Linked DNA regions of Homo sapiens. The protein of the gene in region 3 purifies or fractionates together with the protein of the main gene of each other region. This does not show direct contact. Each region holds a gene or a part of one and is shown on either strand. Other genes may lie near its edges.

Region 1 (4,477 bases), on a different chromosome or scaffold from region 3:
TGCTACTTTTCCACCCGCTTTCTCTGGCTCCCCATCCTGCCAGAGGCTACCATCAGCTAGACGTTTTGAGGCAGCCTCTTGGATATGCCTTTCCCAGTTAGGAACAGCAGGCCGGGCACTACACATCCAAGATGCCTGCAATCTTTTGGTTCTTCACAAATGAACTCATCTCATGATGGTTAGGTGACCATCACATGTAGTTGCAACTAATTTCCAACGCTCTCCTTAGGTTCTTGGGGGAGGAGAGCCATAAGCTCCAGGATTCTTATCGAATCCTACCTGTGTATGCTCATTTGGGACAGGTCTCAAAAAAAAAAAGGTACTGTATTACCTATCATTCTCATGGACCACACTGCCTTCTTGCCCTTCATGACAAGTGTCTCTTTCAAAATAATTCTAAAATCAAAATGGCCAAAAGACCATTTAGGATTCTTGCCCACCCATCTCCATGAAATGGGCCAGAAATACAGCAGTTCTTACTGCCATTATAATCTACACTGTCAAGGCTATAAACTGCCCTTCAGTGTCTAAAGTACAGCATATGCACCAGAGAGCTGCACGGAGGAACCAGCGTAGACCCCAGCAAGTCCATCCTCACCCTTGCCAAGGACATCTCACGGTAGAAATGTCCCCAGGGGTACAGAACATCACCCTGTACACTTGTGTCTAACAGGTGACAATTTTCTTAGGTGGCTTTCATGCACCTTATTTTTAAAATCACATTCCCAAGAGCCCTGTTATCCTGTAAGAAACAGAAGGACAGAGGTTTGGGAAATACAGAACCAGGACCCTAGGCCACTCCCCTGATGGCTGGTGACACCTTGCTCCACCATGAATGGCCTCAAACAGAAAGAAGACCCCAAAGACAGCACTCTTTACCAATGGCCCTGTAAGGTTCTAAGAGCCTGGCTGAAGTGCAGGAGAAGTTGGCCTATGTTCAATTCCCTTTCCTGCTGCTGATGAGGCTGGCAAGTAGATACAACAGACCCTTAAGAGTCACAGATTCACATTTGTTAACTGACAGGCAAAACTCCATTTCCCTCTTCAGATCGTTGGTGGTATGAAAATAAATAATTATTCGAACATTTGTCCAAGTTTTCTTTTGGAAAATTTGAAGCAAATCCTTCTCTCCATACATCATGAAGAAAACAGCCTAAAAGGTTTTTAAGTCCCCAGGATTCAGATGTTCTGAACGTCTTCCCTACTCAATACCTGTCATCCTTAGGTCACCTTCCAGTTTGCAAAGCTCTCTACCATGTGGCTCTTTGTTTGCTCCTCTGGGGAACTGGTAGGGCTCAGAAAGGAACGATGATTCCATTGAGGTGCCAGTAAGCAACCGAGCCAGGGCTCCAACCAACTGATTCAGATTTTCCACTGGATCAACCTCAACCTGTCACAGGTACTGCTGGTCTCAGTCAACCCCTCTGGCAAGTCACCCCCGTGTGTAGCACATAAGACCCTTGGCAGCCCTGCCCTTCCTGCATTCACAACAGCACTCAGTCAGCACCTCCAAGCACAGGAAACCATTTGGTAAGACACGAGTATTAAAAAAATAAGTTGCGTGACATTTATTTTGTCTTGTTAACATTAATATCTGTAGAAACATTTTTATTGTCAGTATAAAAATTAACAGGTTTTATTAAATACTTTCTCCAATTTTGTAACACATAAGATCAGTGTAATCTGCATTCATCTTGCACGGCTATTGCAAAGTGAGTGGGTGTTTCCAAAGCAAAACACAATACTTTAGTACAGAAGGAACAACGGCGATATTTTGTCTGATGTAGGTATGAGGCTGGATCTTTTGGTGAGGTCCTGCCAGAATTAGATGAAAGCAATCCCTTAAAAAGATGGACGTATCCCCAAAACTATCAGCAGAACAACTCTGTGTTTCAATTTTCTATGATGGGACTTGAAGATCCTAACAGGCGTCTCCAACGCCAAAGAGTCTGGAAGCCATTATCAAAATTCACTGAAGAGAATACAGGCTAATCTGATTAATGTGCAACTCAGAAGCAGAAGGCCAGCTGCCAGAGAGAAGCACATTCTGCTATCATTTCAACTAAGGTCTGTCCTCAAGGAATGGATTAAGGCATCTTTTAAGAGGACGCTGGTACCATTTATCTTGGGAAGTCCAGTTAGACGTTGCGTTGACGTAATGACAGGGTTGCACACCAAAATGAAACACCTTCCTATGAATGAGTTCTTTTAATATGGGGCATTTAGGAGGTCTAAGAACAATCGTCTGACAGCAGCATTTAAACACAAATAAATCAAAACTTCATTTTCCCCAAATTAGTCATATATTGTAAATATTCTCTTTTCAAAGGATCTGATAACTAGTTAAGTCCAAGCAATAGATTAACTAGTCTGCTGTGCTGCCTGCATAGAAATGCCACTTAAATTACAAAAAAAACTATAAATGATTAATTGTTTTGTATATTACCAATTTATTAATAAATTAACGTTATACCATTTTCCCTGAAAGCAAAAGTATTTTTCCACCTCTGCTCGGTGAAAATTAAGAAATTATGTGTAAGAACAGCATTTAGCAAATAGCTATTAAAAAAAGAGAGACCAATTTTCTAGGTGCATTGGGACATCCATTTAAAATCAATACAAAAAATAACTCCTTGTAAATATATAATATATATTTATACATAATTTGAATATATTTACATACATCCAGCACCTATATACTGCATTTGTGCTCTGTAAGTGTGTGCTGACATAAATCTTCTCCAATTATTACAAAATTAACAAGGAAGGCAGAACGCACGTCCACCTTGAGTCCTACTGGTCCACAGCCAGTACGCACGGCAGGTGAGAGGGGTTACATGGTGGCTTGTGGCAGTCCACTGCTCCAGAAACCTTCTTCTCCTCCTGGGGAAGATTACAAGTTTTCAACTGTATAAATCTTTACACATATGCTGATTACTTTTCCAATTATTTACTCCTCTGATCCATATATACAAGTGGAGACAACAAGCTCTGGGAGGCATGGTCTCCCTGCTCAGTGTAGCTAGGTTCCCAGTGCTGTCCTGTTTGGGGACAGGCAGACACAGTCATTCATGTTTTAACACTGCCGTTTATGTGTGGATACTGAGGAAGGCATGGTTCGTAAGGCATGGGGTCTGGAGAAAAAACAGAATCATCTCCTGAAGAACAAGAACTTCTTGTGTCAGGGTAACTAGGTGAATACTGTTCGAGAGGTTGGCTGAGGTCCAAGTATTCCTGAAAGAAGGGAAGAGAGACGTTTTATTTCATCTTGGGTCAGGATAACAAGGTGAATACGGTTCGAGAGGCTGACTGAGGTCCAAGTATTCCTGAAAGAAGGGAAGAGAAGAGTTTTATTTCAAACACAAACTCTTGAGATGTGGGTATTGGACGTGGGACAGGACAGGAGACCCCTAGAAGGTGAACAGAGACCCAGCCCACCTGACTTCCACGAAGACCTCCCTGAGACCACGTCTGATGTACCCCAGGCTGTCCTTAGCTTTTCTCTTGGAATCCATCATAAATCAACTATTGACAGGTAGAGAACAATAAAACCTAGTTGAGCTATAGGTGCTGGGCAGGCAACTCGGCTTCACACGGACCTAAATAACCCGCTGAGTCTACACCACCTCCTCACTAGAGCCCTTGCTTCAAATGCGAGCCCCAGCAAAATGAAAACCGGTAACATGTTGTGGGTCCCCAGACCCCCTTTAAGTAGTTGAGACTATGAATATTTATTTTCTGAATTACATTTTACTATTGTAGTTTCGGGGATAATTGAAGGGGAATACTTCTTCATTCAGTGGGTAATTTAACAGATGTAACTGATTACTCTCAGAAGCTCTCCGAGTTGAAAATGTAAACAGGTTCAAAAAAGGCTTAGACATACTCATGTATGTTAAATCCATAATGCACTGTTAAAGGAAACTTCAGGAAAATATCGGTTAAGTTTCAAAGTTTTGAAGGTTCGAGATTCAGAAAGTGTCCTTTGCTCCCCAAGGCATCCAGTGCTGGTGCTGCAAAAAGCCCTCTGGATCACCCCAGGGTGACACTTCCTCCGACTTGGGTGCCCACAGACGACTTTGTATGGCCTGAGGGCTAAAGATGGTCTTTAACATTGGTAAGCGGTTGAAAAAAAAAATCAAAAGAAGAAGAATATCTTATAGGATTAAAATGAATAAAATTTATATACAATTATATAAAATTCCAATTTCAGGATCCATAAAATTTTACTAGAAGACAGACTAGAACACATCTATTTACATATTGTCTGTGGCTACTTTGAGGCTACAGTGGCGAAGTTGCAACAGAGACCACAGGGCCGGCAAAGCTGAAAATATTTACTCCCTGGCCCTTTACAGAAAGCAGTTGCCGACCCCTGTTCTGAAGCTATGAAAAGCTTTCTAAATTGGGAACTTGTGGGTCTCTCTGCCTCCACTGGGCTGGCACAGTGGGGCAGTTCTGCTCACACATCCAGAAG
Region 2 (5,170 bases), on a different chromosome or scaffold from region 3:
TTAGCTTGGATCTTAAAAGGAAATCAAGATCTTCCTTCATGACACTAATAATTAACATAGCTTCCTTTTCACTGCTAGACTTCAAAAGCCTTTCTGTGAAACAGGTATGTCTATAAAATGCTAAATGACTAATCATAAAAAAAGCTTATAGTTTATACATATGTGTCCGTCTACATCACATTGCAACCAATACATTTTCATATACTATGAGGGTATGTCTCAGAAATATAAAACAATGGTTTAAAATAACAGTATTTTAAATTTTTATGAGTAATTTTTATTTTCTTCTAACTGTGTTTGCTCACTTTCCATAGTGAAATTATATAACAAGAAGAAATTATTTTAAAAAATCCTAGCAATTTAATGCATTTGTTGAAGTAACTGCCTAATCTGGTATGCCTTGCACATATCAATTTTTTGTTGTTGTTGTTAAGAAACTTTTGTTGATTTTCTGGCAAGAGTAACTGAAGCACAGGCCAAAAAATACATCTCACAAGTCATGGTAAATGAAAAGCTTGGCAAAAAGAATAAAGTTGCCCTTAAGATGCCTATGCTTCCATTTTCAACCTAAAACATACTGCCTCTCTTCCACACGTGAAGGTATTTTCATTCAGGGAACACGTATATAGAAGTATACAAGTGTAAGAAAAGCAAAGCATATTGACTACGCATCTTGATTCACATCCTTCAATAACTTGGCTCTGACTGCATAATTCCTACTTTTGTGATACATTCCCAAAGCACTCTGTGCTTTAACTATGAAAGCCATTCAGAGATGGGAAGGATGGGCTAACCTGCAGTGTGGGGATGCATTCCAATGACTAGAGGAGGTGTCCCAGAGGAGGTTAGCGGACTGCTTGTTAAGCATTACTTGAGTGCCCAATCTTCAAAATCTCTTTCATCCCCAAGATTCTATGGTTCTGGATTATTTTAGTGGCACATAAATTAGTAAGCACTCTGGATTTTGTCCATTTTCATCATCATCCAAACTTATCTCAATCCTATAGGTATTAATATATTTAAAAGCCATCACTTCACTAATACAAAAAGAGGAAAACATGTAGTTATGAATATAGCCATTTTCCATAAGCTTCTGTTCTATGAACTTAGAGCTATGAAAACGACACCACTTGAATCCAAGGTATGATGAACTACAAAGACTCCATTCATCAACCATTGCACTACAACCACAATCTAAACTCTCTAGCTCACTTGCTGATAATAGCTCAAGATTTATGAACCTTATACTAGACTGACATGCTCTTTAAACTCCTCTCACTTGAGATTCATAAAATTTAATACAATTTTCCAGAGCTGCTGCTGAAAGCATCAATGATAGATGTTAGTGGTTTTCAAAGTAAAGGCAAAATAGAAAAATAAAACTGCCATTCCACTTGGCTGGTCTTGTTTTAACCTAAGGCTTTGTTTATGCAGTCAGTCTACAGTGATGACACTGAATGAATAATTCAGATCTCAGAGGTGTTTGGTCAGGATATCGTAGAGCCCAGAGAAGATAGGAGTCTGGTTCAGTGGGTTCAAATATGGAACCCCAAATCATGTTCAAAGTACACATTCCAGGTATCACTCTAATTCAATAGTTATGTATTTTAAACATGCTGATTAAAAATACCCTAACAATTCAAACTCTTCAATCCCTTGGTGACTAGTCACTCAGTCTATAGATTAAAATAGTGCATATGTCTGAAGGAAGTATCACCTGTCTCCTTTTGTGTTTTCCAGCCTAATATGAATAACCAATATCCTTTTCTATTTCAGAAGGCTACACTATCTTCCTAACAAAAAAATTTCTGAAAGTGTAGCTTGTGAGGATCTTAGAATTTAAGCTTCATCCCTTTGGCTTTTCATGGTGATTTCTTTTTGAGGTCCATTATAACTCAAGTACTCATCAAAAAGATCTTTATAACAGAACACTGGTTAGGAGTAGTCTGGATTAAGATATATTCACAGATCCATGAATAGGAAAATTAAATAAAAATCTGTCAAAAAGTAGACCTTGAACACACTATGTTTATGTGATTTTTAAGACATAAACAAAAAATGCAAAAAAAAATTTCTCATTTCCAGTAAATTAAGGTATAGAATACAAAAAAAAAAAAAAAAAAAAAAGAGCTGGAAGGGCTTACAAGTTCCATAGTGCCCTTCTAATTCTCTGAGACCTGACGTCAAAGTTTTATGCACAGATTGATACTCATTTTCAAAAATGTCCTGGATTTCCTCTAAAGTTTATAGTAACTAATTTCAGAGCAAAACTTTTTTATTTATAACAAATTTTCTTAAGTCTAGCCAAAAACCTTCTGGATGTATTCACACAGGGCCACCACACTGTACTACTGACATAGTAGTCTAGGTGAAGGGTGCTCCCAGAGTTGTGTTGTATACCACCTGTACAGCTGTATGCAGCAGCCCTGATTTACTCTACCTTCAATGAAGAAGAAAACCAACTGATCAGGAGAGAAAATAGCTCATTGTCATCATGTGAACATCTTTTAAATTTAGAATGATTCTTTTTTTTCTTCTTCTGGTTAAACAATTATAATTACTTTGCATTTTCTGATAGGTACAACACTCCAGACCTTTCAAATGTTTTAAACTATTCACCTTGGCACCTTATCTTTGAGACTTTTTGTTTAACGTGTTAAAAAATAAGAAGACAGAACAGGAAATGAGTAACCTTGATTAATTATACCCTGACCAATTACCTCTGCTTCTGCCATCCAGTTGCTGTCCTTTTGAATTGTGCCAATGGACATCTTCATAGTGACTGGCTGTGAGAAGACACTCAATTGAAACGCTAGTTCCCTCTTTGGCTATGATGACATCATCATCCGAGTGGGAACTTGCTGAGAGTTCAAAGCTTGAGGGAAAGGATGCATTGTAAGAACTACGATTTGCTTCCAGTGAAACCATTTGGTCGAAGTCCACATCTTCCAAAACAAAAGCAGCTGGCACAATAATACTTGCCACTAAAGTGAATAAGCAACAATGTAGCTTCATGGGAAAATGGGACAAAATCTTGTTTAGATTTGGAGAACTCAAAAACTTCTACACTACAACAAAAGCACAGCGGGTAATTTATTGCTTGGTAGAGAAATTTTCCAAACAAGTGGTAGATCCAGTTATATTTTCTAGTCTTCAAGATTAAAAGATGTGAGTAGAGAACCTAAAAGAAAGCCAGATACAAAGTTTAACCAACTGAGATTCATAATGGGGTGAAAGTGCGTATGTTCCAGAATGAATAGATGTTAATTAGAATAATTGGTGCTGACATTGGGGAGTAATTAGATGGAACAGTACCTAAAAATCTCACACAGAGACAGCAGAAAAAGCAATGAATTGGTAAATAGCAGACCTAGATTTTGGTCCTAGCTTTGCCACTAACTAGCTGTACGACCTTGGCAAGCAGCATTCTCTCTGGGTTTCTGTTTTCTCCTCTGTCAAATAAGGGACTGGATGAGATAATCTCTAAGGACTCTTCCAATTCTGAAATGCCATGATTCTATTTCATTCTGACAAATTTTATGCAACAGGGAGCCAATGAAGGCTAAAATATTTATCTTAATGATCTTTTATTTCAACCTGCACCATTACCATCTGTTGTTATAATGTAAATCAACTGGCATATCATAATCATAACCATGGAGCTCAAAATTTGAGTAATTCAAGTATGAAGATATGTTACATATAAATAATGCAGGGACACCTGAGGTGGGTTGTTTTAACACTGGAAAGAAAGCTGCACTTACTGCATACACATAAATAGAGTTATTGACTTCTAAAGCTATGGAACCTCCTTCATGGGCAAGAACATTAGACAACAGAATTTTCTTTTAATAGTTTCTCCAATACGAAGAGACAAAGTACAGTGTATTTAATAGTTTGTAAGCATACCAAATTTCTAGCTCAAACTCTGTAAACTAGCTAAGGGAGGAACTGACATCTTAAGTGTCTAGTTAGTAGAAATGCAAATATAAAACTACAGGGACAGATTGTTAGACACATTTAAAAGAAGAGCAAAATATCTTGAATAAAAGGCAAAATAACATCCTAGTCCAAAAGTCTATGTATTTATGATCACCTTCCTGGTAATTTGACTCCCCCTTTAAGCCACCAACTCTCAAAGAAAAAATTCAACTTTTATTTCTATAAAATATGGGATGAAATGCCTAGCTTTATGTCTTATAAAGCACCAAGATAATTAGTTTTGGAAATGACATTTACTCTCCTTTATATTTATATGAAGGCTGCTTGATCACAGAACATAAAAAACAATGAATCACTGTATTTTGCCATTAAATATCTCAAAGTCTAAATTACAATACGGTGCAAATGTCATTTAATTTTCATTAATTAACCCTTGAAAGGATGGTTGAATGGTGACAAATACTTTTCTAAATCTTTACAATTTAAGGATGGGGTATACAGAGTAAAATAAAAAACCTTCAGACTTTGGCAATACATGACACACTAAACGTGTTTATTTCCATTTCCTCCTAAAACCGCACAAAAAGGACACTAAAGGAAACAAAGACTTAGGCAGAGAGGGGATTTTGGAAGTAATATAATCTAATTGATTCAGTGCACAGTGATTTGCTTCTTACGACATGCTACAAGTTAGTAGGAGAATCTAGTTTGGAATACAGTCTCTTTTTTAAGAGGGGGTGATGGGTAGAAACAATGGAAATAACATTTATTGAATGACTGCCATCAGCCAAGCACTGTGCTAGGGGCTTGACATGTAAGTTTCCAAGCTCTTTTTCACTGCAAGATATACAGCAATTGGAGGACATAATTTTGTACTTTATTCTAGATTAGTGGTTCTCAACGGTGACAGGCTATGAGTGTGCTGAAAAAATGCTCCAGGCTTTCTCCAGAACTTTGATTAGGAGTTCCTATAGCTTCATCCAGGGCAGCACTTCCCAAACTTCATTCATTCCTTCTCCTGTCTTTTTTGTTGTTGTTGTTTTTACTATATCCATGAACCAAATTATCGTCATTTCTGCTTTTCTTTTAAATCAACTCATTTTATTTTTACTTTCACATTTATTTAAAAAGGAAACTCTACATCAGTTCTGTGGACAAATGTAACCGTACACATAAACATAATGAAAACAAAGAAGTGTTATTAGCTTCCAGAGATACTACTGCCTGC
Region 3 (5,651 bases):
TTTTTATTTTCTGTATTTCCTGATACTTTGACATCTTGGGGCCTTAACTGACCCTTGAAGAGACTGCCCTCCCAGGTCCAGCCAATTCCTGAAGATAGTAAACCCTGGCCTGCAAGTGCACCTTTCATGTGCAAGCCGACACACCCAAAGCCTACACCCCAACAATCTCTATGGAGCCCTCATGCTCCAGGCCACCATCCCCTGCCCCCAACCACCCCAGGGCCAGGTCCCAGACAACCAGGGACATACCCCATGCCCCACAGCCACCAAATCACTCAAGCTGATCCCAAGCCCGCCTTCCCTACCTGCCTTCCTGTAAAAACCAGAATAAAGTTGTTTTTTTTAAAAAAGACAGCCTCGCTCTGTTGCCCAGGCTAGAGTGCAGCGACCCAATCTCAGCTCACTGCAACCTCCACCTCCCAGGTTCATGCGATTCTCCCGCCTCAGCCTCCCAAATAGCTGGGATTACAGGTGCCCACCACCACTCCTGGCTAATTTTTGTATTTTTAGTAGAGATGGGGTTTCACCATGTTAGCCAAGCTGGTCTCGAACTCGTGACCTCAAGTGATTCATCCACCTCGGCCTTCCTAAGTGCTGGGATTACAGGGATGAGCCACCGCACCCGGCCCAGAATAAAGGCTTTTGCTCACACTTTCCTGGCTCCCTTTGCCTTCTGATAGACCCTGGTGCTTCCTTGTGTGGACTCCTGCTTCTAGGGACCCGTGAGTATCAGGCTTCTTCCTTCATGACAGTCATTTCTGTGTCTGCATGTCTCACTCAGCATATGTGATTAAATAAAATGCTGGCTACATGTGAAAGCAGTGGAGATGGGTAGGTGGTGGGGGAGCTGACTCAGAAGCCGCCCTGTTGCAGGCACTTAGCAAATGTGCAGAGGAGAAGGAAGGATGCTCTGGGGCGGGAGCAGCAGCAGGACACAAGGTGCCTTCTGCTTTGGAGGACTCTGAAGCGAGAGGTGTTGAGGAGGTTCCAGGACAAGCCACAGTGGGGAGAGTTGCTAGAAAGGCTGCTGACAGGGCCGCTGTGTGTGCCCATGCATTTTGTGTGTTCCACAAAGAGATCTCAGACACAGCCTGTGCTCTACTCACTACAACATCAGCCCGTGGAGTTGAGCCACCTTCTCACCTGCCCCAAGCGGTGTCACTGCGCATCCCCCTCCAGAGGGGGCACCTTGTCTAACACACATGAAGGCACCACGTGTGCAGGCTCCTTGGTGACCAGCCAGCACCCTCTGGAGCCACACATCACGACAGCTTCAGGAATGTTGCGGGTCCACCCGCCCTCCCAGATCCCTTGGCTTACCTTTATTCCTCAGGAATTTCATGGGGTTCGTAGGGGATGCAGCTAAAAGGCCATCAAAGGGGATCAAAAAGAAGAGACTTTAAGATGGTTTAAGATGAACTTGGGAAAACAAGGAAATAACTTAGCATTAGAGAAGGACGCCGAACACACAGCTTCCAAATATCTAAGATGGGATGTGTTAATACATTCCTCCCAATGCCTGGCAGCAATGTGTGGGTTAATTTGCAGAAGCCTGGTGAGCCTGCTGTTCTTTTTGCACCTGGTGCTTCCTGTCATGAAGAATGACCTTTAGGAACAGGATACTTTTGGTTTCTGGTCTCCTTTTGCAGTCATACAAGTTGGGAAATCTCTGCCCAAATTAAGGACCTGGAGAGACTTAGAGTTGAAGGGGCTACGACCTCATTAGAAGGTCAGCAAGGGTTGGGCACAGTGGCTCATGCCTGTAATCCCAGCGAGGAAGGCAGATCACGAGGTCAGGAGTTCGAGACCAGCCTGACCAACATGGTGAAACCCCGTCTCTACTGAAAATACAAAAATTAGCTGGGCATGGTGGCACGCGCCTGTAGTCCCAGCTACTCAGGAGGCTGAGGCAGGAGAATTGCTTGAACCCGGCGGTGGAGGTTGTGGTGAGCCGAGATTGCGCCACTGCACTCCAGCTGGGTGACAGAGTGAGACTCCGTCTCAAAAAAAAAAAAAAAAAAAAAAAAAAAAAAAAAAAAAAAAGGATCAGAGAGCCAGGCAGAGAGGCCAGGGAACCAACAATAGTGTCCTTTCCTCGGACACAAATTACATGCAAATGTATCACACAGACAGCATTTCCCTTGCATGGAATGGAGATTATTTACAAGCATCATATATCTCCACAAAGGGTTGCTGAGCTTCAAAGATTGTCGGGGTTGGTTTTGCTGTTATAAGATAAACAAACATCCTCTAGTACTCAAATTAGAAGGGAACCATAGAAAATGCTTATAAAGAATTCTCGGCTGGGCATGGTGGCTCATGCCTGTAATCCCAGCACTTTGAGAGGCCGAGGCGGGCGGATCATGAGGTCAGGAGATCAAGACCATCCTGGCTAACACAGTGAAACCCTGTCTCTACTAAAAATACAAAAAATTAGCTTGGCGTGGTGGCGGGTGCCTGTAGTCCCAGCTACTTGGGAGGCTGAGGCAGGAGAATGGTGTGAACCCAGGAGGTGGAGCTTGCAGTGAGCCGAGATCGCGCCACTGCACTCCAGCCTGGGCGACAGAGCAAGACTCTGTCTCAAAAAAAAAAAAAAGAAAAAAAAGAATTCTGTACACTCACAAACCTTCTGTGTCTAGACTTGCATGCTCTACTGCCAAATGTGCACCAAATTCAAGTCAGACAGGCATACCTGTGTAATCTGGATGGGATCAAGGTTTTTGTGTGCGCTTATTAAAGTGAAATGAAAAAGAGAAGAAAGTGGCAATCCCTAAAGAGAAAGCAGTTAACAGAGAGTGAAGAGCATAAGATCTAATTTCCAAGCAAATGTTTATCTAATTATACTCTATTTTATGGACCTTTCTACCAGCAAGCACACAGTACACATTCACATGGCAGATAAGAGGACTCCAGGCTACGATTCTCACTCCACTGAATGAGGAATTCAATGACTCACCCGTGGATCTCGAGGCAGCCCCTTGAATCCCAGGCAACTGGGTTTTATGAAAGAACACTTTGGGCTCTTTGGTGATGTTTCTGGGTGGTTGTGACCGTTTACTGCCTTGAAAAGAAAACTTTTTGCGGTGAAATGTAATTACCTTCTTTTTATCTCCCCTGAAACAGCTTTTCAATTCTCCCTGAGTCACATAAAACCAGTGGTTGAAGCTACCTGGTAAGCCTGTTATGTTTCCAGTGGGATGGAGTCCATCTGCATACGGCAAGCATAAATGAAGTTGGCATTCCATTAAAAACAAAAACAAAATGAGGAAACCACTCTGAACCTTGTCCATCACTCTCAAATTATCAGTATTTTATCCCGTAGATGAAAGGAAATACTTAGCTACAGTCCAGCATCTGTCCTCTATTTATCTGAGGAATCAAGAAGTTCTACTCCCTTCAGAATGTTTGGGCAGTGACTTGGAGCCACCAGTGTGAGGTCAGTCCTTGCTGTGATAATGGAGTTCCTTCATGGAACCATGCTGACCAATGGGGAGACTACAGTGTAAGAGGGCAGTGCTTGGAGGTGCAGGCATGATGAGACCAGGTCCCTGCCTGCAGTGTGCAGATTAGTGAGGAGGCAGAAAGAAATCAATTACAGTCAGCCCTCCGCATGCATAGTTCCCCATCCGTGATTTCCAACAACCTCACTTGGAAAATGTTCAGGAAAAAAGGAATGGGCACGGTGGCTCACGCCTATGATCCCAACACTTTAGGAGGTCAAGGTGGGCAGATCGCTTGAGGCCAGGAGTTCAAGACCAGCCTGGCCAACACAGTGAAAGCCCATCTCTACTAAAAATACAAAAATTTGCTGGGCGTGGTGGTGCACACCTGTAGTTCAAGCTACTTGGGAGGCTGAGGCATGAGAATCACTTGAACCCAGGAGGTGGAGGTTGCAGTGAGCTGAGATCATGCCACTGCACTCCAGCCTGGGCGACAGAGCAAGACTCTGTCTCAAAAAAATAAAACAACAAACACAAAAACAAAAACTAGCCAGGCATGGTGGCGTGTACCTGTAGTCCCAGATACTCGGGAGGCTGAGGCAGGAAGATCACTTGAGCCCAGAAGGCAGAGGTAGCAGTGAGCCAAAATCGTACCACTGCACAAAGAAAGAAAGAAAAGAAAGTGGAAGGAAAGCAGTCACCCTTAGAAGGGAGGCAATGTGCACAGGGGAGACCCACAGCAGGAAGGTAAAGGGGGACTCCTGATGACTGAAAGTGGGCCCTAGGCTTCAGAGATGGGAGGAATAGAAGACGGGCTCAAAAAAGGCAATGAACTATGTCATGTATGAGGGAGACAGAGGGGACCTGGGAGTGCTGGATGTTAGGGACCACTGAAATCAATACTGTCCAGGCTGTGCATGATAGGTGAGAGGAAGGGAATACTTCCAGGAAGAAGCAGAAGTCTGGGACTTTCTTTTGACTCGTGATGTGACCTGACCAACAGGAGGCCCTTTTTTTTTTTTTTTTTTTTTTTTGAGATGGAGTCTTGCCCTGTCACCCACACTGGAGTGCAGTGGCACAATCTTGGCTCACTGCAACCTCCACCTCCTGGGTTCAAACGATTCTCCTGCCTCAGCCTCTGGAACCGCTGGGATTACAGGCATCTGCCACCACACCCAGCTAATTTTTGTATTTTTAGTAGAGATGGGCTTTCACCATGTTGGCGGCCAGGCCAGTCTCGAACTCCTGATCTCATGATTCACCCACCTTGGCCTCCCAAAGTGCTGGGGTGACAGGAGTGAGCCACTGTGCCCTGCCAGGAGGCCCTTTAAGACATTAAAAAAACTCTTATCTGTTTAAACAGAGATGGGATCTTGCTACGTTGCAAGGCTGGCCTTGAACTCCTCAGCTCAAGCAATCCTCCTGTCCCTCCCAAAATGCTGGCATGAGCCTCGGTGCCCGGCCTAGAAATTTTTTCAAGATAATAATCTTAGTAATAAGGTTATAAGTTACCAGGATGCTTGTGGTATATTGCATATGACTTATGAAATCCTTTGGAATCTCTAAATCAGATAATTTGGATTCACTCTGGCTATTAGAATACAATATCCACATCCTACTGGTAGTATGATTCTGGATATATTATGCTGCTTTCTCCAAGATGAGATAATACTGCTAACTTCATTCTCTCCAAGGGCCTTTGCACAAATCATGTAAAAAAAAAATCCATCAATAACTAACTTGCCCCTGCCACATTTATCAGGTGACCACTAATGTGTCAGGCCTTGAAAGGACTACAATCAAATGTTACACACCTAAGTGAGCCCAAGCTAGAAGAGTCAGAAGGTGAAAATAACAGCCTCCCAATGACATCACTAGGCCATCATTTCTCAACCACTGGGAAGCCATGGGCCCTTTAAAAATTAGATGAGCTTTATGAGCCCAAGTTCCACTCAATACCCTTGAAGCCTATCCAGGAAGGATCCTTGGCCCCCAGTTTTAGAAATACTTATGAACTGGAGAGAAGCCACCCAAGTCTTCTGATCCATCTTTCCCCTTTTCCCCTGTGAACACTGAGACTTCATTACTCTAGGTGGACTGGCTAGCTCTCTTCCCTTCTGAATCCTGCTCCTTCAAGTAAGCCTTTCATCTGCAGAAGATTTCAAAAAAATAAAAGACCGAATTCAAGGTAAACCTTGGGTAATGGTGCTC
Region 4 (5,170 bases), on a different chromosome or scaffold from region 3:
TTCAATGTCCATAAAATGGCTGTGAAAAATAAAATTGTTGACACTAATTATTTCTAGGGAGTGAAATTGGAGAACGAAGAGGCATTTTCTCTTCAAAGTTTTTTCATCAGGATTATTTGCATTTTATAAATACCAAGTACAGATTATTTTTAACCTAAGAAAATAAAATGCTATGATTGCATAACAGTATGATCACAACTATGTAAAAATACAACTGCCCTGCATTGGGAGGAAAATTATGAAGAAAATGCAAAGTCTTGTGCTATGTATTATTCTGAGTTTAGATTCCTTTTCCTACTTTTACTTCTTGAAAATTTTCTCTAATTTTCTTTGAGCTTGCATTATCATAATTAAATGTGTATTCTAAAGTTGCAGTTTTTAAAGTTTTATGCTTAATAAAAACCATGTGGGGTTATGTGTGTGCCTGCATGGGTGTTAGCCCTGATGAGGCAGATTCCTCCAATAGCCCTGTGGGTAGGCATCCTGTATGTGACCACCACCACCGCGGGTAAGGATCTAAGGATCTATGGCTTTCACTTCTTTTTTTTTTCTTTTTTCTTTTGAGGAGTCTCACTCTGTCTCACAGGCTGGAGTGCAGTGGCACAATCTCAGTTCACTGCAACCTCTGTCTCCGGTTCAAACAATTCTCCCACCTCTGTCTCCCAAGTAGCTGGGACTATAGGCAGCTGCCACCACACCCAGCTAATTTTTGTATTTTTAGTAGAGACAGAGTTTCACCATGTTGGCCAGGGTGGTCTCAAACTCCTGCCCTCAAGTGATCTGCCCGCCTCAGCCTCCCAAAGTGCTGGGATTATAGGCATGAGCCACCACACCCCGCCAGCTTTCACTTCTAAGATGGCACTTTATCCATGTAGGTCAAAAGTTAGCAGATACCACACAACACCTTCATATTGGAATTCGGGATCTTAAACTATGTTACTAAATAGTTTTAAACATTTTATAACAATCTATCATGCCAAAAACATAATTACTCATCTTCTTTCTAACACATGACGTTTAGAACCAGCAGTCAAGCAACAAGTCCCAATAAAATATGGTTCATCTGCCAAAGGAACAACAAATGTCCTGGTTATTTATGCTTCTGTTCCCATTTCACACTGTCTTCCAAGCTGAATGAATGAGACATCATAAACCCCAGTGCTTCCCACTCATAATTCTTACATTTCAAGGTCATCTGTGCTCACACTGGATACTTCACCCTTTTTGATTAACCAAAGCCATTTCCATCTTGACTTACAATTGACTGTAAACAATTCTTACATTGGAGCAGGTTCGGTTTTTTCATGGAGAGGGTAATAGTTCTAACTTTTAAAGTCAGAGAATGTTAGTGAGGATTATTTCATAGATAAAACTGAGATCCAGGGAGGTTGAATGACTTACCATGGTTAAGATTTATTAAGGTCACAGCTTAGCCTAGAACTCAGGTTCCCTTACCCCTTATATTCACCATTATTCTGCCATATACTGCAAAACCTCTTGATCCTAAAGTAAAACCAAAGTCACTTCTAGGATATATTTCTAAAACACAAAAATTTCACATGTGGAATCTTTGATGTATAGGTGACTCCACAAGAGTAAAAATGATTACCTCAAAAATATGAAAGCTATTTACACAAAAATGTGAGTATTTTGGTTCTTCACTAAAAACTGCCAGCAAAACTGGATTTGTACAGACTTAAAAGATGCTTGGAAAAACATACACAAAACTCTAAACAAGGAAAGCTTACTAAAGGCATAACCAATGGACATTAATCAAGAAGAAACAGGCGATTTACTTCTTCAGGTTGAAGCAAATAAAGAAAAAAAAAACCACAAAATGCATAGAGTATCACTGACTCCCCTGCCTACAAAAGAGAAAGCATAAGTAGAATACACTGTTTGAAAGATAAAGTCAATCAAAATTTTGGAGCAATATTAAATGAAAGCCCACTAGTAATAGTAACAGAAGAACTAACATAAATTTGTACAAATTCCTAATTTGAACTTCATTTCATCTCATTTTCCAAATCTGCTAACCCTCTGCTCCCTCTCTATCGAGCTCTTCCACCCAGAACCCAGAAATCTCTACATACAAACACTGTTTAGCTAAATGTGGTAATGTGGAATTATACAAGGTATATTTTATTTTTAATCGAGTTAGCACCATTGCTATTTCCTCCTCTTCTATAGGACTTTCAACTAGAATTTATTACAATCAGATCAGCAAAAGCTCAGTTAGGTACTGTTAGCCTACCACTGGTAAATACTAACAGCTTCCCCCAAAGGGGTCATAAATTTAAACAAGAATGATTTAAAACCCTAAAATATTCAGGTGGATCACATAGTTGAGTATGGTTTAGATCTCAACTCTAAAAGGACAGTAAGATTTTGAAGTACTGACTTGATTTGGAATACCTCTCATTACTCTGTTCTCACATTGCTATAAAGAACTGCCCGAGACTGGGTAATTTATAAGAGAAAGAGGTTTAATTGACTCACAGTTCAGCATGGCTGGGGAAGCCTCAGGAAACTTACAATCATGGCAGAAGGAGAAGCAAGGCAACTTCTTCACAAGGCAGCAGGGAAGAGTGACAGAGCAAAGTGGGAAGAGCCCCTTATAAAACCATCAGCTATCATGAGACTCACTCACTATCATGAGAACAGCATGTGGGAAACTGCCCCCATGATTCAATTACCTCCACCTGGTCTCTCCTTTGACACATGGGGATTATGGGGATTACAATTCAAGATGAGATTTTGGGTGGGGAAACAGCTAAATCATATCAACCTCTTTCTAAGAATGTACTTTAAAAAGCTTTTCAGATATTAGAAAATGAACTTTGGATTCTTCTTTCCATTATACCAATGAACTTAATTTTTAATATACGAACCTCTAAATTTCAATTTGCAAACTTCCTAAGTCTACCTTGCAGAAATAAATATAATGATTAAGGTTAAGGACATATGCTTCACTGCAAGGCCCCACTTAAATATTAACGTCTATAGGAGTATCCTTCAAAAAACCTACTACTACAAAAAAAAAAAAAAAAAAGCTTATACAAAATAATTGGGGATTTACTTATCTTACAAAAAATATGTCACCTAACAACAAGGCTTCCTCATCAGAACAGTATTTTGAACTGGCTAGAAATTAAGAATGTCCAATCCAAACACTCACTGTGGATGGGGCATCTGAGGTCCAGAAAGGTTTCTCCCTCATTAAAATGTGGGTTTATCTATAAACAATTTACGTATATGTATATAGAAAGGCAACTAATGAATAAAACAAGTAACAAGAATATATAAAGTTCAGTGATAATCTACCATTTGAAATAATTTCAAAAGGAAATCACATGATATAAAGACTTTGGCAAACACAAACTAAGGTTCCTGCCTAAGATGACTCTTAAAAAGCCGTATGTTAGCACTGGTATGATCCCAAGTCTTTTTATTCAAGGAAGCTGCTTTCTAGTACATATGTTAAAGACAGCTGGTTCTCTTACATCTAGTTATGCTAATCAAATGGCTTAGCCATATAGTTTCAAAATATGAAACATTTTAATGACACAAGATTGTACTTAATATTTTTTCTCAGATTCTTTAATAATGGGTATTATTCTAAATAACTTAGAACTAAAGATTTGTTCACTTGGATCAATTTTTTACACTCTGATAGATGCTTGTTTGCTCTGGATAACTCTGGAACGGCTGTCAAGTAGTTACATATGGAAATGTCAGTATCTTGGGTTGCAAGAGTTCCAGAAGCAATTCAGATGGCGGAAGAGGCCGCTATCCAAACCCACTAAGAGTCACTCTTCAACAATGCGAAGTGATTACCAATCAATCAAAAAACCAAATGGTTTCTACAATAGCAATTGTTTTGTTCGTCAAGAAATAGAGTACACTAAGAAATAAAAAGTGAGAAAGATAACTAGCTTGAAGAAACTAGAGGTATGGACAAGGGTCTAATCATTCAGGATGACACCATTTGAATGTACCCTGCCCAAAGCCAGCAGATTACTGTCTCATTTTTGCTCTCGGAAATAAGCCTGACAGGCTGGGCATGGTGGCTCACGCCAGTAATCCCAGTACTTTGAGAGGCTGAGGCAGGCAAACTACTTGAGTTCAGGAGTTCAAGACCAGCCTGAGCAACATGGTGAACCCTGTCTCTACAAAAAATTAGCCTGGTGTGGTGGTGCACGCCTGTAGTCCCAGCTATTTGGGAGGCAGAGGTTGTAGTCAGCCAAGATCATGCCACTACATTTCAGCCTGGTCAACACAGTGAGACCTTGTGTCAAAAAAAGAAAGATTAAAAACAGATTTCTTTTTCTTCAATCACGGAAATTTTTTTTTTTTTTTAAGGTACAGTGACGTGATCATAGCTCTCAGCCTCAACCTGATCCTCCCACCTCAGCCTCCCATCTTGGTCTTCCATGTAGTTGAGACAACAGGTGTGCACCACCATGCCCAGCTAATTTTTATATTTTTTTTTTGTAGAGACAGGGTTTCATCATGTTGCCCGGACTGGTTTCAAACCCCTGGGCTCAAGTGATCCACCCACCTCCACCTCCCAAAGTGCTGAGATTACAGGCATGAGCCACCATGCGCAGCCAATCAGAGAAATTATATATGGGGAAGCTCACATTTAATTCATATTTAAAAAGTGGTTTCAGAGGTGACCTATTAGTTTACAATTAAGGGAAAGAGCTCTAAGAAGTCTGGCTATTTCTTATACAGATAACACAATAAGATCATATTCCTTACCCTGACAACTTGCCGAGTACTTGTAATGAAGGCTTTTCTTATACTCAATTCAGTTGCATCAAGGTTAAATTTTCTAGGATTTGCTTCAACTATGCGTAGGTCAAAAAGTCAAGGTAAAACAATTTCATCATCAAAGCCTGACAACATCCTGTTAACTCACTGAATCTCTCACATGCAAACAAATAAAATCTGGCTCAAACTTTCTGAAAACACAGTCAGCTGGACACCAATCATTCTCAGACTTCCTCTGCCCACAGCCACAGGAGGGAGGATCCCTTTGCTCCAAGACAGAGATGATCTGTCTGGTTAGGAAGCATAGCCCCTGCTGATGAGCTTCACTGCAAACACTTAGGGCTATCTGACCACAGGTGAGCTGGGCTCTTCCTGTTTGCCAACACTTGTGTCT
Region 5 (5,170 bases), on a different chromosome or scaffold from region 3:
AGCGAGACTCCGTCTCAAAAAAAAAAAAAAAAAAACAACTATCCAAGTCTCCTACAGATTTCTCACCTTCAAAATTGAGAGTCTATCTTCTCAACATTTTGATACTTTACCCAAAGGCTAAAGAAAAAAAAATTAATGCTCAAAAAAGGAGGTAAGAAAGCAGGATACGGGAAGGGCACCGCAGGCATAAGCCATACTCCCTTTGGTACTTGCAAGGACTGCCAAGGCTGGCGTGATTCTTCAGCCAAAAGTCAGAAGTCCAGTGATGTCATTAGGACCAAAAGCATTATATGACCTTCAATTTCGGCAGCTAACTGTGCTGCAAGTCAAGATATTTTCTTTCTTTTTCTTTTTTTAAGCAGAAAAATTATCTTAAAGTTCACCATGTTCCTTCTATTTTTTAAGATAAAGAAACGAAGATTCGGATTGGGTTAGTGTGGCATCCGTGATTGAATAGGTACTCAGTAGTAAAACCAGTATCAGACATTATTTATAAAAAATTAGAAGCTGAAACTTAATCATTCCGCTGCTTCTTTATGGCTTTTTATACTTCCCAAATTACCCACAATAGATGTATTGCCTTTAAAATTTTTAAAAAGCTGCAAAAACTGCTCACTTTACCGAATACTTCTGGCCGGGCGCAGTGGCTCATGCCTGTAATCCCAGCACTTTGGGAGGCCGAGGTGGGCGGATCACGAGGTCAGGAGTTCGAGATCAGCCTGACCAACACAGCGAAACCCCGTCTCTACTAAAAATACAAAAATTAGCCAGGCGTGGTGGCTCACGCTTGTGACCCCAACTACTTGGGAGGCTGAGGCATGAGAATCGCTTAACCCGGGAGGTAGAGGTTGCAGTGAGCCAAGATCACGCCACTGCACTCCAGCCTGGGCGACAGAGTGAGACTCCGTCTCAAATAAATAAATAAATACTACTGAATACTTCCAAAAACAGTCTCCTTGTCCTTTCTTGCCTAAGGTCTCACTCTGCGGGCTACCTTTCTCAGGAAAGCCTTCCAAAGTACCCGCATCCTGAACAGCCCAGCTTCCCTTATCAGTCTTGTAACATTCCCTGGACTTCCTTTTTGTAGATCTTAACATAACTACAACTAGATAATTATTTAATGTCTATCTTCTCTACCCAGGCCTTAAGTTGAAATTTCTCAAGACTGGCCAGGCGCAGTGGCTCACACCTGTAATCCCAGAACTTTGGGAGGCCAAGGCGGAAGGATCACCTGAGGTCAGGAGTTGAGACCAGCCTGGCCCACGAGGCAAAACCCTGTCTCTACTAAAAATACAAAAAGGAGCCAGGCGTATTGGCGGGCGCCTGTTAAACCCAGCTACTCGGGAAGCTGAGCCAGGATAATCACTTGAACCCAGGAGGCGGAGGTTGCAGTGAGCCCAGATCGCACCACTGCACTCCAGCCTGGGAAACATAGCAAGACTCCGTCTCAAAAAGAAAGAAAAAAAATTCTCAATGCTGTTTTAGGCTCTTTGCTAGACCATACAAGGAGTTCTCGATACGAGGTCTATAACCTATAACCTGTAATTCTATAACCTATAACCTATGTCTTCCTCTGCCAGATATATGCACCTGCCTGAAATGAGACCACAAAAGTGAAGAACAGAAAAGACAACCTCAATTAATTATATCATTTGAGCACTTAGGTCCAGCCATGTCTATTTCTAGACCTTTCAATATCATGGGGGTTAGTGGGGAGAAGCTTTTCCCTCCTTTAAGCTAACTTGAGTTAGGGCTGTCACTTGTAAGCAAGAGTCACTTGAGAGAGCCACCCAATTCCCACTGTTGGAATATAAAATCTATACAGCAATGACTCCCAAATGCCTACCTCCAGCACAAACCTCTGTCAAACCCCAGACCCATATAGACAACTGCCAAGTGGAAATCCCTACTTGGCTGTTTCAGATATCTCAAACTCCATGTGATCCAATACTATTTTCTTCTACAAACCAGCTCTCCCACCTCATTTTTCATATCTGTCACCCACATCTACCCTGCTTTCCAAGCTAGAAATCCAGGAGTTGTTCTTGCCAATCCCATTCCTTCTCTCATCCACGCTAGTTATCGCCTCCTATCCATTCCAGGCCCTAATTATCTGCCACCATCTTAACCCATTTATGCCTGAGGCTGCAATTTTTTGAATTTTTGCAATCAGACCTTGGTGATGACCTTGAGCAGGATATAAATAACTCCCACGTGCTTAGCGTTCCAATAGTGGAACACTAGGCATAAATGGGTTTAATCCGGGCTAGGCCAGAAAGACCTTCCTACAAGTTTGAACATCTTCAGTCTTCCTTTCTTCAAAATGATTTTCCAACATGTAACTAATCTCCCTAACTGCAAATGTGATTATAATATTTTATCCCTATCTCTAGCATACTCCTGTCCTCCTTCATAAGTCAACAGCCAATTATATACAGCTGGATCAAGAGCCAAGCTCCACTGTTCCAGACTTTAACAGTATAACAAATCTGTGCCATAAGAAAGGAAGGCTCATCAGAAATATAAAACTATAAAAGAGTAACAAAGTCTACAACATCAGAGTAAATAAAAGATACTCAAAGATAATTTACTCATCTATTCAATGTCTACTCATTAGTTATATATTAAACTGCCCATACGAACTGGCTTAGGGACCACAGGGGCCACCCTGAGATGGAGTCTACTGATCATCTGATCTCCCTATGCCCCTAACTAGTGTTCTTTTCAAAAAACACTACTGGGGATTTCCAGGCACATCCAAGAGCTTTGATTAGGGAGAGAAACACTATTCATCAATTCTAAGATGCATCCATTTTTCATATTTTAGCATCTCCGGAATTGGGGTGCACCTTACAATCAATGGCTTCTTACAACTAGAAGCATATTTTAAGTGGTCTGTAACACTACTGTGTATCTTACAATGGACATAACTCAATGCAAGTCAACATTTAATCTTGTGTTAAAAAGTTGGTCCAACTTGGTCAATATGGACCTTGTGATGTTAAAAAGACATCCTAAAGCCTAAAAACTAGTAAAAGGTGGGAAAGTAGAAAAGGAAAAGAAATGGTTCCTACTTCAAAATTTAGTGTGATAGGAAACCCATTTTCCTTTCTCTCCATGGTTCGCTGCTCCTAAGATCCAATAGTCAGATCAGGACAGTTCAACAGCTACTGTTAGGCTAGACAGGAGCCTTTCCCCATTTATTCCTTTTAATATGCAAGAAAAGTCCGTTACAGACCCACCCTGCAAACTAGTAGTGAAACTAATATTTGTATAAAAACTGCTATAAAGGCCAGCCACAGTGCCTCACCTGTGTAACCCCAGCACAGGGAGGCTGAGGCGAGCGGATCAACTGAGGTCAGGAGTTTAAGACCAGCCTGGCCAACATGGCAAAACCCCACCTCTACTAAAAATACAAAAATTAGCCAGGCGTGGTCCCAGCTACCTGGGAGGCTGAGGCAGGAGAATCCCTTGAACCCAGGAGGCAGAGGTTGCAATGAGCTGAGCTCACGCCATTGCACTCCAGCCCAGGCGACAGTGCGAGACTCTGTATCAAAAAAAAAAAAAAAAAAAAAAAGAAAGAAAGAAAGAAAGAAAGAAAAAACAATAAGGTATTAAAAAAAAAAAAAAAAAAAAACAGGTAAATCTGAGGCAAATACCACAGAAAATATTTCATTTAATGGAAGACCTAGGAAACTTCTGAGTGGCGAAGTGGTAAGAACTGGGCTTACAGATTAATTTAGGCAGAAATACATAAGATTAGATAAAGGAGAAAAGTGAAGGCAAGAAAATCATAACATTAGTCCAGGTGGGATGAGAACTTGATTTAGAGTTAGGGGGTGGGGGTGGAGTCGCGGGGTGGTGGGGGGAGAACTACGTGAAAGCCAAATAACACTAGATTTGAAAATAAATTCCTGAAAAAAATGTGAAACATTAAAATTCATATGAGAATCAGAAAATCGACACAAACCAACAGCTATTAAAGAAATTGAAGTGTTACTCAAAGTCCTCTCCAGAAAAAAGATCTAGGCCTAAATGGTCACATAGGGGAGGTCTTCCAAACTTTCAAGGAACAGATAATCCCAGTCTAAAATGATCCTGAAAAAGAGAAAAAGAAGGAAAGCTGCCCAACTCGTTTTATGATTTGACTACTACCTTCACACCAATATGAATTCAGAATTGCCCCACAGTTAGCAAGAATAGAGAGCAGAAGAGTTACAATATCATAAAGCAGAATCAACAGATGTTGGCTACAGACAAGATATGATGAAATGGGAAAAGGTTTGGGTTTGGTATGACATCAACAAAAATAAAGAACACCAAAGAGGCAAGTTTGCTAAGGAAAAGCAGCTCAGAACAATCAGGTACAGATATGTAGAAAGCAACTGAATAAAAAAGAAAAAACAAAACAAACAAACAAAAAAACGTGATTCAGAAGACACATAAACAAAGAATTGAGAATTATTCCAACAGAAAGGTCTGAACAATCATTCTAAGGGACTAGAGACATAGAGAAAAGTGATCTGAAAAGTGAAACTTGGAGAACGCATATTAAAGAGGAAAGAAGAAACAGAAGGCAGAAAAGTGGCGGAGAGGAACAAAGTCAGTATAATGTCACAAAAGGCCCCTCTTCATCTAGTTAATAGTTAACTCTTGCTCATCCTTCACAATCTGCCTGGGTTCCAACAAAGCAATTTTAAGGTATCTTTCCCAGATTCTCCCACCACCACAAGCACCAGATCAGGTCTCCATTTGAAGTTCTTATAATATTCTGCACCTTAATTAAAATCACAATTATATTTAACTAGAGACTTTATTTTTCAATAAGTATTTCCCCACTAGACTTTAAGCTCCATGAGGGAAGGATCTGTTGTATCTTACTGCCTTGGACCCTGTGTTAGAATACAGCGAGTATAGATGAATGAAACCCAAGGAGAGGCATCTGAAAATGTGAAGTCGATGTTAAATCTTACAGAAAACTCAAGGAGAGGACTTAGAAAAAGGTAGTTAAATGTGTTGATTAGGTTATAGTTCCTTGTGAAGGTGAAATCCAGATAACAAGGGGTTAAGAAATGAGTGGCTAGCCACCAACCAGGCAAAGGCAGGAAAAGCAGACTACACTTGGCAATCTCTAGAGATGGATTGTGAATGACTAAATTTTAATTTCAAT
Region 6 (5,170 bases), on a different chromosome or scaffold from region 3:
TGCTACTTATCAGTCATATGACTTTGGGAAAATTACTTTTTCTCTCTGGACCTAAATTTTCACATCTGTAAAATGGAGATAATATAATCTCTACCTTTCAAGGTTACTATGAAGATTGGAAACAATATACAAAATATATAAAAGCATCAAGCACAGTACCAAGCATGTGGTTTGCTTCCAATATACGGCAGTTACATTATGATGGTCTTGCCCTTAGACACTAGGGTTTTTAGTTTCTCCCTGGTACCTGTAAGAACTGAATGCACATCATCGCCATTTAGGATCATCCTAGATTGGGCTCATAAACTATTTCTACCAAGCAATGATTTTAGGAGCTTCGCTCCTCACAGTAGGTGTGGTCTGCAAACTGTCTACTATCTTAAAGCCAAGAGGGGAACATCTGGGCCTATGCCATCACACTGCCCAGACTAGGCTTCTGTACTTGCTCATCACTCACTCCAGTTACTTGCTAGAATAGAGCCTAGAGGCCTGATGGTCCCCGCATTTCTGGGGACTTATCCTGCTTCCATTCTCCCACAATGCCCTACCTTCATCAGCCTCAATCTGGATGAATATTTACAAAATGACAAATGCAGCACTCACATATCTGACATCAAGAACCAAGAGTGCCCAATAATCTCCACTGGTTTATATGGCATCCCAATCTCCACCTCCATGAATCAACATCAGGCTAGATGGAATCTGAACTCACTATGTCCCCACAAATGACATGATCTGGACTGCTGGAAGAACGGAGTTCATCTAAATCAATGTGAAGATCCCTCTTATGAGTTTAATTCTACAAATTTGCATATATTTATTCTCTTCCTAGACCTCCCTAGCAGCTATCCACCCAACAGCAAAATATTAAGTGTGCAGAATCAAGGAAACATTAGTGTGCTTCTGCTTCAAGATACTTCAGCCATCCCAGGAGACTTGAAAAAGTAGTGGTAATAGGAGAGATGAAGGAAAAATGAGCAGGTCTGACTAGTAATTTACCTCATCATTTTTAAGAAGAGATGAGTTTATTATCCCAAAAGCAAATGTACCTGATTTTTAAAATTAGCTCTACTTTCACTAATCAATACAATCATAAGTAACGAATCAAAATTGGATAATGAAAATAACTTAATTCCCACAGAGCAGCCATCAAGTAACATGGCAAATTATACTCACTCTCCCAGGAACCAAAGGGATAGTAGCTTCAGCCTTGGTCCTCTCCGCTTCATCATAACTGGGCAGTGTTGTAGCTACATTGTAAGATGGGGGCTTTGGAAACCCAGACTCATCCTTGTAGTCAAAATATGCTGCAGAATTTTAACAGTCACAATTTTTTGATGATTAGCTGAATTGAAATAAAAGGAGTTCCACTAACTCTAGCAGACAAAACCCAGCCATTCCCTTAAGAGTACATACATAACAATTGAACCAAAAGACATTCTTAGATGAATGTAAGAGACTGGGGGTGATTTTTAAATGTATCCACTTCTCAATTATTTAAAATCCAGACTTGCTTTGTAACCTTTCTTCCAACTGCTTCTGAAGCTTTTTTTTTTTTAAACTGTAATGTCAAAGCACAGAGTGTTTTTAAGGATTCCGTGATCACCTTGCCCTGTTACCTACCTGCGCTCTCTGCAGAAATGCTGCTGTAAGGTGGAGGAGCATCACCTGCAGCCTGTTCAGGTTCTCCAGACTCTTCTTCATTCTGCAACTAAATAAAAATTTCATATTTTAATGTAAGCATAAAGCCAATTAGAAAGATAAGAACCCAAAAACTGAAATAAATAGCCTTTCTCGAAAGCTATTTGGCAACGTATTTTGAAAGCCTTGAAATGCACAAATCCTTTAAGAAAAGTATTCTACTCCCAGGAAGTTATTCTATGGAAATATTCAAAGAGGCAAAATGGGTACATATAAGTGTTGTGTCAGCAAAAATTAGAAACAACCTAAATTCCAATCATAGGAGACAAATAAATTATAGTACATCACACAAAGGACTACTAAACGGCCATTAAAAATTAAATTTTGCCATCCTGGCCAACATGGCAAAACCCAATCTCTACTAAAAATACAAAAATTAGCCAGGCATGGTGGCACACTCCTATAGTCCCAGCTGCTCAGGAGGCTGAGGCACAAGAATCGTTTTAACCCGGGAGGCGGAGGTTGCAGTGAGCTGAGATGGTGCCACTGCACTCCAGCCTGGGCAACAGAGTGAAACTCTGTGTCAAAAAAAATATACATTAAATTTCAGCCAGGCATGGTGGCTCACACCTGTAATCCTAGCACTCTGGGAGGCCTAGGTGGGTGGGATCGCTTGAGATTAGGAGAGTTTAGGAGTTCAAGACTAGCCTGGGCAACATGGCAAAACAAACCCTGTCTCTACAAAAAATACAAAAATTACCCGGGAGTGGTGGCATGCACCTGTGGTTCTAGCTACTCAGGAGGCTGAGGCAGCAGGATGGCTTGAACCCAGGAGGTCGTGGCTGCAGCGAGCTAAGATTGTGCCACTGCCCTCCAGCCTGGGGCATGAGAGAGACCATGTCTTTAAAAAAAAAAAAATTAAATTTCATTACTCAAATAGATATTTACAGTGTACTATTATTACATGAAAAAAGCTAAACTTGCCAAACAATAGGCATCATATAATCCTTTTTAAAAAGGCAGACATATAATGGAAAGGAGGCCTAGAATGAGACATTTACAGTTCAACACTGTTATTTCTAGGTAATAGGAGTACAGGGGAATTTTTCCTTTTTGTTGTGTATCTGCATGTTCAAATATTTTGTAGTGAATATTTATCACTTGCATACTTTTTTTTTTTTGGAGAGACAGGATCTCACTCTTGTTGTCCAGGCAGGAGTGCAGTGGCACAATTATGGCACACTGTGACCCTGGCTAACTTTTTTTAAAATTTATGTTTTGTAGAGATGGGGTCTTCCTGTGTTGCCCAGACTGGTTTAAAACTCCTGGCCTCAAGTGATGTATACTTTTTTAAAGTTAGAAAAATAATCTGTTAAGACAAAAGACAAATCACAGACAAACCATGTTACCATTATATTCCACATGCACACCAAATTAAATCTTAAATAATTGAGACACTTATGAAAACATAAAATTCTCCCTAATTCTACATATATCTGTCAATAGATATCCCTTTTCCCTATCTCAGCAACTTTTCTGCCAGTCAAATCTTCAATTTTTTAAAATAACTCGCACTGAAAGTGTCTGCTGTTGCTAGTCTGTATAGTCTACACAAGTCATCTTCATAGAATAAAGACATTTCATTTGGTTTTTCCAGTCCAGTGTGACAATGAACTATATTAATTTAAAACATGAGTTGGCTGGGACTAGGAGCCAATCTGAAAATTAATAACAGAATATTTAGTGATATAACTGACGTAGGGGTCTGGTCCTGGCTTCGGTATCATCAGGATATACAGAGCCAACTGACATACTTGTAAAATACATACCACCTCTAAACCATACCGCTACAAAGAACTCTATCTTGAATTGAGACAGAAAAACAGAGAGACCGAGGTGTACTAATGTGAAGTAGAGCTCCATAATCCATTAAATTTTCTTTCTTTCTTTTTTTTTTTTTTTTTTTGAGATGTAGTTTCGCTTTTGTTGCCCAGGCTGGAGAGCAATGGTGGGATCTCGGCTCACTGAAACCTCCACCTCCCAGGTTCAAGCAATTCTGTTGCCTCAGACTCCAAGTAGCTGGGACTACAGGCGTATGCCACCAGACCTGGCTAATTTTTGTATTTTTAGTAGACGTGGGCCAGGCTCGTCTCAAACTCCCGACCTCAGGTGATATGCCTGCCTTAGCCTCCCAAAGTGCTGGAATTACAGGCGTGAGCCATTGTGCCCGGCCACAATCCATTAAATTTTAACTGATCATCTCAATCTCCACTCACTATGCTGTTCAAAACCAGATGTCAATAAATTTTTCTGACTAATACTACAAAAGCTTCAATTTCAAATGAATTCTTGTGTCAAATTCTCATCAGCATCTACCATCTGGGTACATTTTTTCGAATCCTAGTAATCTAATGTTAAACTTAAGGTACTCCCAAAATAGCTGTATTATAACCTAAGATAATTTTTCCTTTTAAACAAAGACATGTGGCCAAAATAGGTGCAGTAAAGCCAAATGCTCCTGGGACACCGAACTAGGAATTACTTAAATAGAGTTCTTGGGACCATGGTTCACCTAAAATACTGGTTTTAACATTATTTGAAGCTCTTGGCAAGGTATTCTTAGCCTCCTCACACCTAACCACTCTTGTGCTGTGGGAAGGTCACCAAAAGAAGCAGAAGAGTCAGCAGCAAGAACAAAGGCAAATACAGACTTTTCGAATATGTTCCCTTAATATACTGTAGCCAGTAATGAACTTCATTTAAACCTAGCTTGGTTTATACTTAACCCGTTTTATATTTCCTGAGCTTGGTGTCAAAGTAATCACGTTACCCCTGCATAATTTAGGTCTCAGAAAGGAAGCATGACAATTCTAAGAAATACAGAAATCCAAAGAACAAAGAGGTTAAGAGGTCTTCTATGACAATATTTATAAGATAGGCTGCCTGTCTCCTGGAAACTTGGAAATGTTAAATTTGATCATCCCCCACCATAGTAAAAGATGACAGTGCAAATAAATTCCAGCCTTCTTAGAACCACCAATTTTCACTTTGGTAAGGAAAAAAACACTTCCAGGTGAAGAGTTTGCTCCACTAAAATTCACTACTTTAGAATAGTGTACTTTTTTCAATTGAAAAATAAAAACAATTTAAAACACCATTATGACTATGGTATAATCCCAAGACCTCACTGTACAGGCTTCTCACTCTGGCTTATTTCTATAATGCTGGTGATAAGATTAGGCTCCATCAAGAAAGCTGTTTAAAACAAAACACTGCAATGTAGGGGGATCGCGGGGAGAGGCAATCACCTTCAAAAAGAGTAAGCACTTAGTGCCTGCCATCTGCATGCATAATAACTTGCTGAACAATGGAATCCTTAAATATACATCTTTTTACACTTCAGGGGCAACAAGTCAGGCATTCACTAACAAGTGGAGGAACCATGTGCGCTAGAACTAGAGTGTGCTATAAAATTGATTACTTGGTTCCAAAATTTATTTTTAAGATTCCCCTTTTCCACCCCTGGGAA

What was found.
Region 1: the proteins of C19orf18 (region 3) and FGFR2 purify together in Homo sapiens (affinity purification with mass spectrometry; one large-scale study listed by BioGRID and IntAct). This does not show direct contact.
Region 2: the proteins of C19orf18 (region 3) and MFAP3 purify together in Homo sapiens (affinity purification with mass spectrometry; one large-scale study listed by BioGRID and IntAct). This does not show direct contact.
Region 4: the proteins of C19orf18 (region 3) and STX6 purify together in Homo sapiens (affinity purification with mass spectrometry; one large-scale study listed by BioGRID and IntAct). This does not show direct contact.
Region 5: the proteins of C19orf18 (region 3) and BMPR1A purify together in Homo sapiens (affinity purification with mass spectrometry; one large-scale study listed by BioGRID and IntAct). This does not show direct contact.
Region 6: the proteins of C19orf18 (region 3) and NDFIP1 purify together in Homo sapiens (affinity purification with mass spectrometry; one large-scale study listed by BioGRID and IntAct). This does not show direct contact.

Annotation. Positions count from the first base shown.
Region 1 is NC_000010.11:121,476,788-121,481,264, forward strand, and holds the end of FGFR2 (fibroblast growth factor receptor 2 isoform 1 precursor), read right to left. Parts: intron 3,327-4,477; coding exon of another isoform or gene 3,264-3,326; exon of another isoform or gene 3,235-3,263; coding exon 3,070-3,234; 3' UTR 2,884-3,069; coding exon of another isoform or gene 2,794-2,883; 3' UTR 1,545-2,793; downstream 1-1,544. UniProt on the Homo sapiens protein: Tyrosine-protein kinase that acts as a cell-surface receptor for fibroblast growth factors and plays an essential role in the regulation of cell proliferation, differentiation, migration and apoptosis, and in the regulation of embryonic development.
Region 2 is NC_000005.10:154,047,568-154,052,737, reverse strand, and holds part of MFAP3 (microfibril-associated glycoprotein 3 isoform 1 precursor), read right to left. Parts: intron 3,182-5,170; 5' UTR 3,016-3,181; coding exon 2,721-3,015; intron 1-2,720. UniProt on the Homo sapiens protein: Component of the elastin-associated microfibrils.
Region 3 is NC_000019.10:57,971,143-57,976,793, forward strand, and holds the start of C19orf18 (uncharacterized protein C19orf18 precursor), read right to left. Parts: upstream 3,393-5,651; 5' UTR 3,291-3,392; coding exon 3,170-3,290; intron 3,062-3,169; coding exon 2,957-3,061; intron 1,363-2,956; coding exon 1,321-1,362; intron 1-1,320.
Region 4 is NC_000001.11:180,997,842-181,003,011, forward strand, and holds part of STX6 (syntaxin-6), read right to left. Parts: intron 4,860-5,170; coding exon 4,765-4,859; intron 1-4,764. UniProt on the Homo sapiens protein: SNARE promoting movement of transport vesicles to target membranes. Targets endosomes to the trans-Golgi network, and may therefore function in retrograde trafficking.
Region 5 is NC_000010.11:86,758,656-86,763,825, reverse strand, and holds part of BMPR1A (bone morphogenetic protein receptor type-1A isoform 3 precursor), read right to left. Parts: intron 1-5,170. UniProt on the Homo sapiens protein: On ligand binding, forms a receptor complex consisting of two type II and two type I transmembrane serine/threonine kinases.
Region 6 is NC_000005.10:142,128,349-142,133,518, reverse strand, and holds part of NDFIP1 (NEDD4 family-interacting protein 1), read right to left. Parts: intron 1,712-5,170; coding exon 1,624-1,711; intron 1,308-1,623; coding exon 1,177-1,307; intron 1-1,176. UniProt on the Homo sapiens protein: Activates HECT domain-containing E3 ubiquitin-protein ligases, including NEDD4 and ITCH, and consequently modulates the stability of their targets. As a result, controls many cellular processes.